Linked DNA regions of Homo sapiens: region 1 is linked to region 2. The links come from fine-mapping of genetic effects on gene expression. A gene starts in region 2. The other region holds a variant in brackets. All regions are shown on one strand. Distances are from middle to middle.

Region 1 (4,400 bases), 33 kb before region 2:
ATCAGAGTACAGACTCTGGTGGCTTACAAGTATCATTCTGTAGTAGAAAACAAACACTCCTTGATAGATGAAGGATGTACCTTTAGGAAGCAACCAAGATGTCCTTCAGTAGAAGAATGGATAAATAAACTGCGGTACATCCAGAAAACGGAATATTATTCAGTAATAAAAATAAATGAGCTATTAAGCCACGAAAATACATAGAGAATCTTACATGCATATTACTAAGTGAAAGACACAAATCTGAAAGAGCTTCATATTATATGATCCCAACTATATGACATTCTGGAAAAGGCAAACTATGGAGACAATAAAAAATCAGTAGTTGTCAAGGGTTGGAGGGGGAAGGATGAATAGGCAGAGCAGAAGAATTTTAGGACAGTGAAAACACTCTCTATGATACTATAATGGTCAATACATCATTATACAAGTGTCCAAAACCACATAATGTACAAATCCAAGAGTGAGCCCTAGTATAAACTGTGGACTTTGGTTGATAATGATGTGACAATGTAGGTTTATCAGTTGTTGCAAATGTAGCATTCTGGTGGGGGATATTGATAATGAGGGGGCTGTGCATGTGTCCCGGCAGGGGATACATGGGAAAGCTCTGAACCTTTCTCTCAACTTTGCTGTGAACCTAAAACTTCTCTAAAAATTAAATTTTTAAAAGATAAGTGCAAAGATTCAAGATTTGTAATAGTAATTTAATGTAATGCTTATGTTGCAAAGTGGTATAAGGTATAGACAGTCAAATCTGAATAAAGAAAATAATACTCATGGAAGGAAAAACGGTAACTTTAATAACTCTTCTGATCTCTGTAGAAGACACCACTAATAAATCATTGGTATTTAACACATTTTTATTAGAAATATAAAGCAACATATTCTAAAATGATGGGATGTCTGATAATAATAAAGAGATTAAAATATATTTCCTATGTGCCAAACACCATCCTACATACTTTACATGTGTTAACTTGTTTAAACCTCACAAGAACCCTATGAGGCACTATTACTAGCCCCATTTTGCAGAGGATAAAATTGAGGCACAGAGATGTTAAGTACCTTGCCCAAAATTACGCATCTGGCAGGTAATAAATCCTGAATTTGAACCCCAGTTGCCTACAGGCTAACGGCCATTAGACACTACGTTATGTATTTTTTCATGTAATATTTTAAAAACCAAACAGCCTTTTCCTTTTCTTTTTTTCTTTATAAACTATTTCTTTGTGCCTTTCCTTTCCTTTTCCTTCCATTCATATAGCCCCAGCAGGTGGGCCTGGTGGATCCAGGAATGCAGAGGTAGTTGGGGCTAAGGGAGCAGTCAAGGCTGAGAATGCTAATAGGGTCAGGGGAACTGGGGTTGGAGAAGTGCAGTGTCAAGGAGGCAGGTGGAATGGGCAAGGCTGTAGCCGAGGAGACAGTCCCCAGGGTCAGGAGATTGATTACATATAGGAGTAATATATATTTACATATATTTACATACATACATATACATTACATGCACACACATACTAGCTTTATCTGCTGAGAGGCCTAGAGACAATGAAACCCAGATGCAATCAGCACCCCTAGTTCTCAGATCTTGGTTTCTAAATACCATTCTCCACAAAACAGAACCAAGTGACTCCAGGGCTCATTCCAGGGCTCTGGTAAGGAAAATACAAGATGAATCTAGAACATAATTTTGTGCCAAAAGTAAGGAAGTGCTAGAATATAGTCAGAAAGTAGTCAAAAGGACAAAGAAGCCACTCTAAACAAACTCCCACTAGGTAAATCTGGG[C/G]CAATTTGAGCATCAAAATAAATAAAAATACTAACAAATTAAAATCCAAAGAATAATATGGGAATCCATGAGTCCACAATGATAAGTAAATGAATGAGTACATGAGTGAGAATGGAGAGTTCTTTCTTCCAGTGGAATACCAACTAATATATGTGGAAGAAATTACACAATTAGAAAATGAGCATTTGGCATCCATCATCATAAAAAAATGATTCATGCAAAAATCATCAATGAACACTAAAACTAGTGGGTGAAAATTTGTTGAGAAACAGGATATTTATATAATTATCAAAGTATCTCCCCACAAAGTTTATTTTACAAAGAGAAGTGCAGAAAGCTGGCCCACACCACCTCAGCCGAGTGACCAAAGTTAACATCACCAATAACGGGACAATTCCACATCCTGTGCCTCCTGATATGATGTACTGAGAGCACAGCATCATTTCTCCGATGTCCCTGCCAAAAATGCACGACCTGAATCTAATCATGAGGAAACATCAGACAAACCCAAATTAAGGGACAGTTTGAAAAAAGGAGAAACTCTTCTATATTCTTGAAAATTATCCAGAGCATGAAAGACAAAGAAACACTAAAGACCCATTACAGATGAAAGGCAACTAAAGGAATGTGATACATAAATGGAGCCTGTGGTTCTGGAGTGGATTCTGAATAAGAGGAGGGGAAATAGCCACCAAGGGCATTATTGGGCCAGTGGGCAAAGTTTGAATGGGTCTACAGATCATGTGGTAGAATTATACCTATGTTAATTTCCTGACCCAGATAATAATTCATGATTATGTAAGGCAGTGTCCTTATTTTTTAGGGAAAAAAAATAAAGTATTTAGACTCCAACAGCATGTCTATAACTTACTCTCAGTCCAGAAAAATGTGTGTGTGTGCGTGCATGTGTGTGTCTACCTATATATGTAGAGAGAGTAGAGAATAATGAAGCAAATTTTGTAAAATATTAGCACTGAGAATCCGGGTGAAGTCTATAGCAGCATTATTTTGTATATTCTTGTAACTTTTTGAATCATTTTTTAATGAATTAAAAATAAAAAATTTTAACTGAAAAACTAAACAGTATATTATTTGGAAACGCAAATATAAAAAGTGAAAGTATAGGCTGGGTGCAGTGGCTTACACCTGTAATCCCACACTTTGGGAGGCTGAAATGTGAGGATTGCTTGAGCCCGGGAGTTCAAGGTTGCAGTGAGCTACCATCACGCCACTGTGCTCCATCCCAGGTGACAGAGCAAGACTCTGACTAAAAGAAAAAAAAGAAAGTGAAAAAAGATAGTGAGGCCAGGCGCGGTGGCTCACGCCTGTAATCCCAGCACTTTGGGAGGCCAAGGCGGGTGGATCACCTGAGGTCAGAAGTTCAAGACAAGCCTGGCCAAGATGGTGAAACCCCGTCTCTACTAAAAATACAAAACTTAGCTGGGCATGGTGGCGGGCGCTTGTAATCCCAGTTACTCCGGAGGCTGAGGCAGAGAATTGCTTGAACCCAGGAGGTGGAGGTTTCAGTGAGCCAAGATCGCGCCACTGCACTCCAGCCTAAGCAACAAGTGACACACACAAAAAAAATTGTGAAAGTATAAGTAAAAGTAAGGACATGATAAGCATAAAATTTAGTATAATGGTGATAAGGGAAGGGAACGGATATTGAGAACACATAGAGCTTCAAAGATAACCACAGTTCATCACATCCTTATTCATTACACCTTACATAGACATTAGAACTGTACTTTCTTTACCCAATGAGTTAATTAAAAAGAAGAATCACTTCAAAAAAATAAGTAAAATGCACAAAGATCACCAGAAAAATGTATGAGTGAAACCAAATTTTCTACTCACAATAAATGCTATTTTTAAAAAATCAAAATCTATTTCATGTGAAATGCACACATTGGTAATCTGTGGAACACCCAAAGTGACCAAAAGGAAAAAACCACAGAAGAAGCGAAGGCAATGAGGAAACACAATAATACAGATCTCACATTTGTAGCACCTCAACACCAGCAATCTAAAACAAGGTCATAATCAGTCCCGTGTTTTGATAAGTAGTCGGTAATATGCTAAACAACCCTTGAATATACTTGAAAACTTGTGAATCACTTTGGGATGCAAATTGTTACTGCCTAATTTATTTTTTTTTCCTAAATTCAGAATCCTCTGATGCTTAACCAACTTGTGGAAGAAGGAAACTGCTTAGATGTGTGTAAAATTAACACCAAGCTCGGAGTGAAATTCACCATAAATCTCAGCTCTAAAGTTAAATGACACATTTGAATCCTGAAATCATCAAACAAGCAAATAATTTCAGCAGCTGCCTCACAAAAGACATCTTCAGAGACTACATTCAGCAAGTAGACAACTAAGAATTAATTTAGGAAAAGCACTCACTCTCTCTCTCTTTTGAAAAACTGAAAGGCAGTATCAATTGACCATAAAGTTGATCTCAATAGACTGTATCAGATACACAGACATTGATTTAAAAATGCAGGCACACACAAAAGTACTCCCTACACAAGCCTATTCCTTTGGGCCTTTGTTATTTTTATTTTTTTTGAGAGGGACTCTTGCTCTGTTGCCCAGGCTGGAGTGCAGTGGC
Region 2 (4,400 bases):
TATGTATGGCATGCTCTCTCTTTAAACACAGCCAGGTATCAACTGCCTTGCACCTAGGAGGAGAGGAGAGCAACAGTTAGCAATCCACTGGTTCAGGAGCTCTGTACCATACATTCCAGCCACTGACTAACTCACCTTTGTATTCAATTCCTAAGTCATTTTGTCTTGTGGGGGAAGGGCATGTTTTCTAAATTTATAACTTCAGTATGATTTTTAGTGAGGAATAGACTCCCTGACTCAACTACTAATTGTGTGTTTGGGAAACTCTTTTATTCTTCTTCTGTACAAGCACCAGAAAAGGTATTTTTATTACTTCCTTTTCTTATTCCTCTCCACTGGTAAAACCAGTTGCCTGTTACCCTACCAATTACAATTCTGGATATGGGAAATTAATTTTTAAAAAAGAAACCCAAGAGTTGAACAGCTTCTTGTGATTAAAATAACACCTCTAATCTTACACCAGTTTAGCAATCTCCGTTCCTTTGCTTCCTGGGACTTGCCCCAAACCTGAGTTCCCTGAAACTTGAGGACCAAGTCCCCAAGCATGGGTTCATCAGTCTCAGGGTTTACCGGAATCTCCCTGGGAGAGCTCTGAGAGTTTTATCACCTTGGAAACACAACAGCAGGCTCCCTGAACGTGCATAGAAAGAGTATTTTTTAAAGCACCATGAGAAAACAGTGTTTAGTTACCCCCAAATGTAAGAGTCACGATTCAAAACTGTCACCGACTCGGTAGCATCTTAGTCAAGAATAGTATCTTCAACTTGACAAATCACAAGTATGTGTACTTTTGCTAACCAAACCAGTAGTTGGAAAACAGCTCAAAAAATCCCATCTCCATATTTATTTTATCATTTTTTTGTTCTAAAAAATGGAATGGCTTCACTTATCAAACTTGCCAGGCCATGGCTGATATAGTCACTATATGTGTGTATGGAACAGTAAATAGTAGACATCAAGTTACCTGTGTCATTTGTAGAAATCCTGATTTTGGAAAAGGAAGTGTAAAAGATACATTCAAAGAAGACATTTTGAACCTTAAAATGGAACTGCTTGCTTTGATGCAAATGGCTATGGTGTGTGTGTGTGTGTGCGTGCGTGTGTGTGTGTGTGTGTACGCGTGTGTGTATAAGAGAGAGAGAGGAAGGAAAAGAGATGGATGAATTATTTCTTTCGGACCATCCCTTCTAGTATTACAAGTTGTGGAACCTTCATCGTTAGTATATTATCTCTGTTGAATGATAGGGTGAATGTAATCAGTTCTATTTATTCTATGTTCTGGACACGCTAAACAACATCAATCAAATGACCCCCTCCTCTTATTTCTTTCACAATAAATTCAACCACATTTATGGAGAGCCTCCTGTGCCAGGCACAGTGCTAGGTGTTGGAAACAAAGATGATTTAAGCAAGATTGAAGATTATTGCCGGTATCTTAGGATTGGAACGGGGGGCGGGGGAGCGGGGGGTGACATCCTTGCTCCCGGCTCTACCGCAGCCCGGACTGCTGTCGAGCCAGTTGTGGCGTTAGCACGCCACTGCTCCCGACTTCTGGGAACTCCCCAGCCAGCCCACGAACCTAGCGCCAGGGTTCTCTCTGCGTTGCCCAAGAGCCAAAGACTCAAGTTCAACTCCGGAGCCGCGGCGCTCACTGCGCACCGAGCGAACCCCGGGCTACGCGAAGCACCGCGCCAGGTTCCTTGCACCTATCCTCCCGCCCGTCGGAGTGCGCTCGACCCCGCGCCTGCTTACTTTGCCGCTGTCGCTCACGCCGAGGAGGTGATCCCGCAGCACCTCCATGGGGCAGGTCCAGGTGGAGTGGACGAACGTCCCTCGGAAGATGTGCGCCAGGGGCGGCATCTGAGCGGCACACATGTCAGCGGCGGAGCGCAGCGCGGGTCTGCTGGTCGAGGAGGGCGCACGCGGCGGAGACGCAGCGGGACTCTCTGCAGCTGCGGGCGGCTGCCGGGCGGACACAGGCTCCGGCCTTGTCCTGCCCCCGCTTACCCGGGCGGTTGCCGGTACCCTGCAGGCCGCGCCCAGGGGCTGGCTCCCTACCTCCTCAATGCCAATAGGATTTTTCTCCCGCGAGTTGGCTCCGCGCTCCCGTGGGGTGTGGTCTTTCTCTCCACCCTTGCGTTAGTTTTGGTTGTGTTAACTCTTTGAGTTATCAAGATCAACCACAGCTGAGGCTCAGAAGATCAGCTTCCTCCACCTTCTATGAGTTGTGTCAGCCTGGCTCCTCTGACCCTTCAACTCCTAGGATCACTTACTTCTTCAACCTGTAGCACTCAGGTCCTGTACTTGCATTAGTTCAGGCACAGGTGAAAGGTCAGCTGGGGCTGCCTACCTTATGACCAGTTTCATTTTTAGTTTATGTAGACTGCAGAATTAGTATTGGTCCTCACCTGGAAGGTTCTGGAAGCATGTCTTACCGAACATCTCTGGGGACCCCTAAACTGGGTGTCATTGTGGACGCCAAGGTTCCTCTCTTCACCTTGAGGCTAATGTTTTTGGTTCTTGTGTTTGTCCGCAAACAATTCCAATACCAATTTTTCTCGTGTAAAATGAATGAATCTCTTTTATTTACTTCCAGTTGTACAAAGGGAGAAAATTAAGTTCTCAAGTCAAATAGGCAGCAATGGTACCATGGGTGCTGAATTGGGAATCAAGAGACTGTGGACAAGACACGTGGGCCTCAGTGTGCTTATCATCCCCACTTATGAAAATGGAGCTTGGACTGGGTCATAACTAGGGTCAGCGTTCCCACCCTACACAATGACCACAGGGTCCTTCACTAAGTTCCTCCATGAAACCCAGCTGGCTTCCATTCAGGGCCCTCTAACGTGCTGTTCCTTCTGCCCCTAATCCCTCTTGTGGCGCTTTACTTGGCAGCTCTTCTCACCACTGATTTGTCTCAAATGTCAGGCTCTTCGGAGTCACCTTTCCTGACCACCAAGTGGCACCGGACTCCCAGCAGTTTCTACTCCACTAATCCATCTTGTTTCTGCCATTGCATTTATTGTGTCCATTCTTCTTTATTTTGTGTTTTTTAGTTTACTCCTGTTTCCCTCTCACCAATACACACACACACACACACACACACACACACACACACACACACATACACACACCAATAACAGAAGCACCACAGGAGCAGGGAATGTGTCTTATGCCTAGAACAATGCCGGTGTTCCATACATGTTTATTGAATAAATGAATGGATGGTTTTTCTGTGAGCAGAGCCATAACCTGAGACAAATAACTATTTTGACAACTACATAAAGGGTGAGGGTTTCATTGCAGTGTGTGAGCAGTTTTTCTCTGAATTGCTGCTTTTAAGACACAGGGCTGGCTTATAGAAATGATTCGTTCCCTTCTCAGTTCCTTCAGCTCCCCCATAACCAATGTCTAAGGTGACCAACAAATCCTGGTTTACCAGGCACTTTCCTGGTTTTAGCACTGAAAGGCCGTTCAGGAAAACCGTCAGAACCATGCACACAGATGGTTGATCACCCTACCAGGGATCCAGAATTAGGAATCTCTGCAGCTGAGGTCATTACACTTGTCCCTGCTCCTTGTCACTTTCTCCTGATTCTGCCAACTGCACTCCCTCCTGGCAGTACCGACAGCCAGCACACTGAAAACATTCCCTTGTATACACAAAAACCTCAGACAGAAAGGTGAAGAAAATGGCTTTTGAGATAGGATTCAATCAGATGTTTCCAACAGATGTATTACTTTCCTAAAACAGATACGGTTAATAATTTTTTTGATGATTAGGTTTTAATGAAAACCTAAATGTCAAAAAAAAAAAATAGAGACTAGTTTTATGAACTAGAATATATCTACTTGATAGAACATTATACAGTTATTAAAAACAACAGGAGAAATATATAGCCACAATGTTAAGCTTTCAAAAATGGCTTCTGGCTGGGCACGATGGCTCACGCCTGTAATCCCAACACTTTGGGAGGCCGAGGCGGGTGGATCACGAGGTCGAGATTGAGACTATCCTGGCCAACATGGTGAAACCCCATCTCTACTAAAAATACAAAAATTAGCTGGGTGTGGTGATGCGTGCCTGTAGTCCCAGCTACTCAGGAGGGTGAGGCAGGAAAATTGCTTGAACCCCGGAGGCGGAGGTTGCAGTGAGCTGAGATCACGCCACTGCATTCCAGCCTGGTGACAGACCAAGACTCGGTCTCAAAAAAACAAAACAAAACAAACAAACAAAAAACAGCTTCTATGCTACGATGAAAACCATGAAAAGCTATAAGCATATTTGCTGGAATTGAAAAGGTACATCAAACAATGTGTGTTGTTCTGTTGAGATAATGGAATTGCTAGGTAGAGAATTTTGTTTTGATTTTTTTAATGTTGTTACTATGTGGTTTATA

The links.
Region 1: its variant is fine-mapped to the expression of GDA in skeletal muscle (GTEx, PIP above 0.99).

Annotation. Positions count from the first base shown.
Region 1 is chr9:72,180,314-72,184,713 of GRCh38, reverse strand. The region is part of intron 1 of GDA (guanine deaminase); the gene reads right to left. Among named protein-coding and RNA genes, the nearest start is that of GDA, 33 kb to the right of the region's middle. The variant C/G (reference allele first, on the strand shown) is at 1,787.
Region 2 is chr9:72,147,035-72,151,434 of GRCh38, reverse strand. It overlaps GDA (guanine deaminase), which reads right to left and starts at 1,995. Exons shown (of 14, transcript NM_004293.5): 1 at 1,753-1,995. The coding sequence starts at 1,875. RefSeq lists enhancers at 1,295-1,794, 1,795-2,296, 4,005-4,400.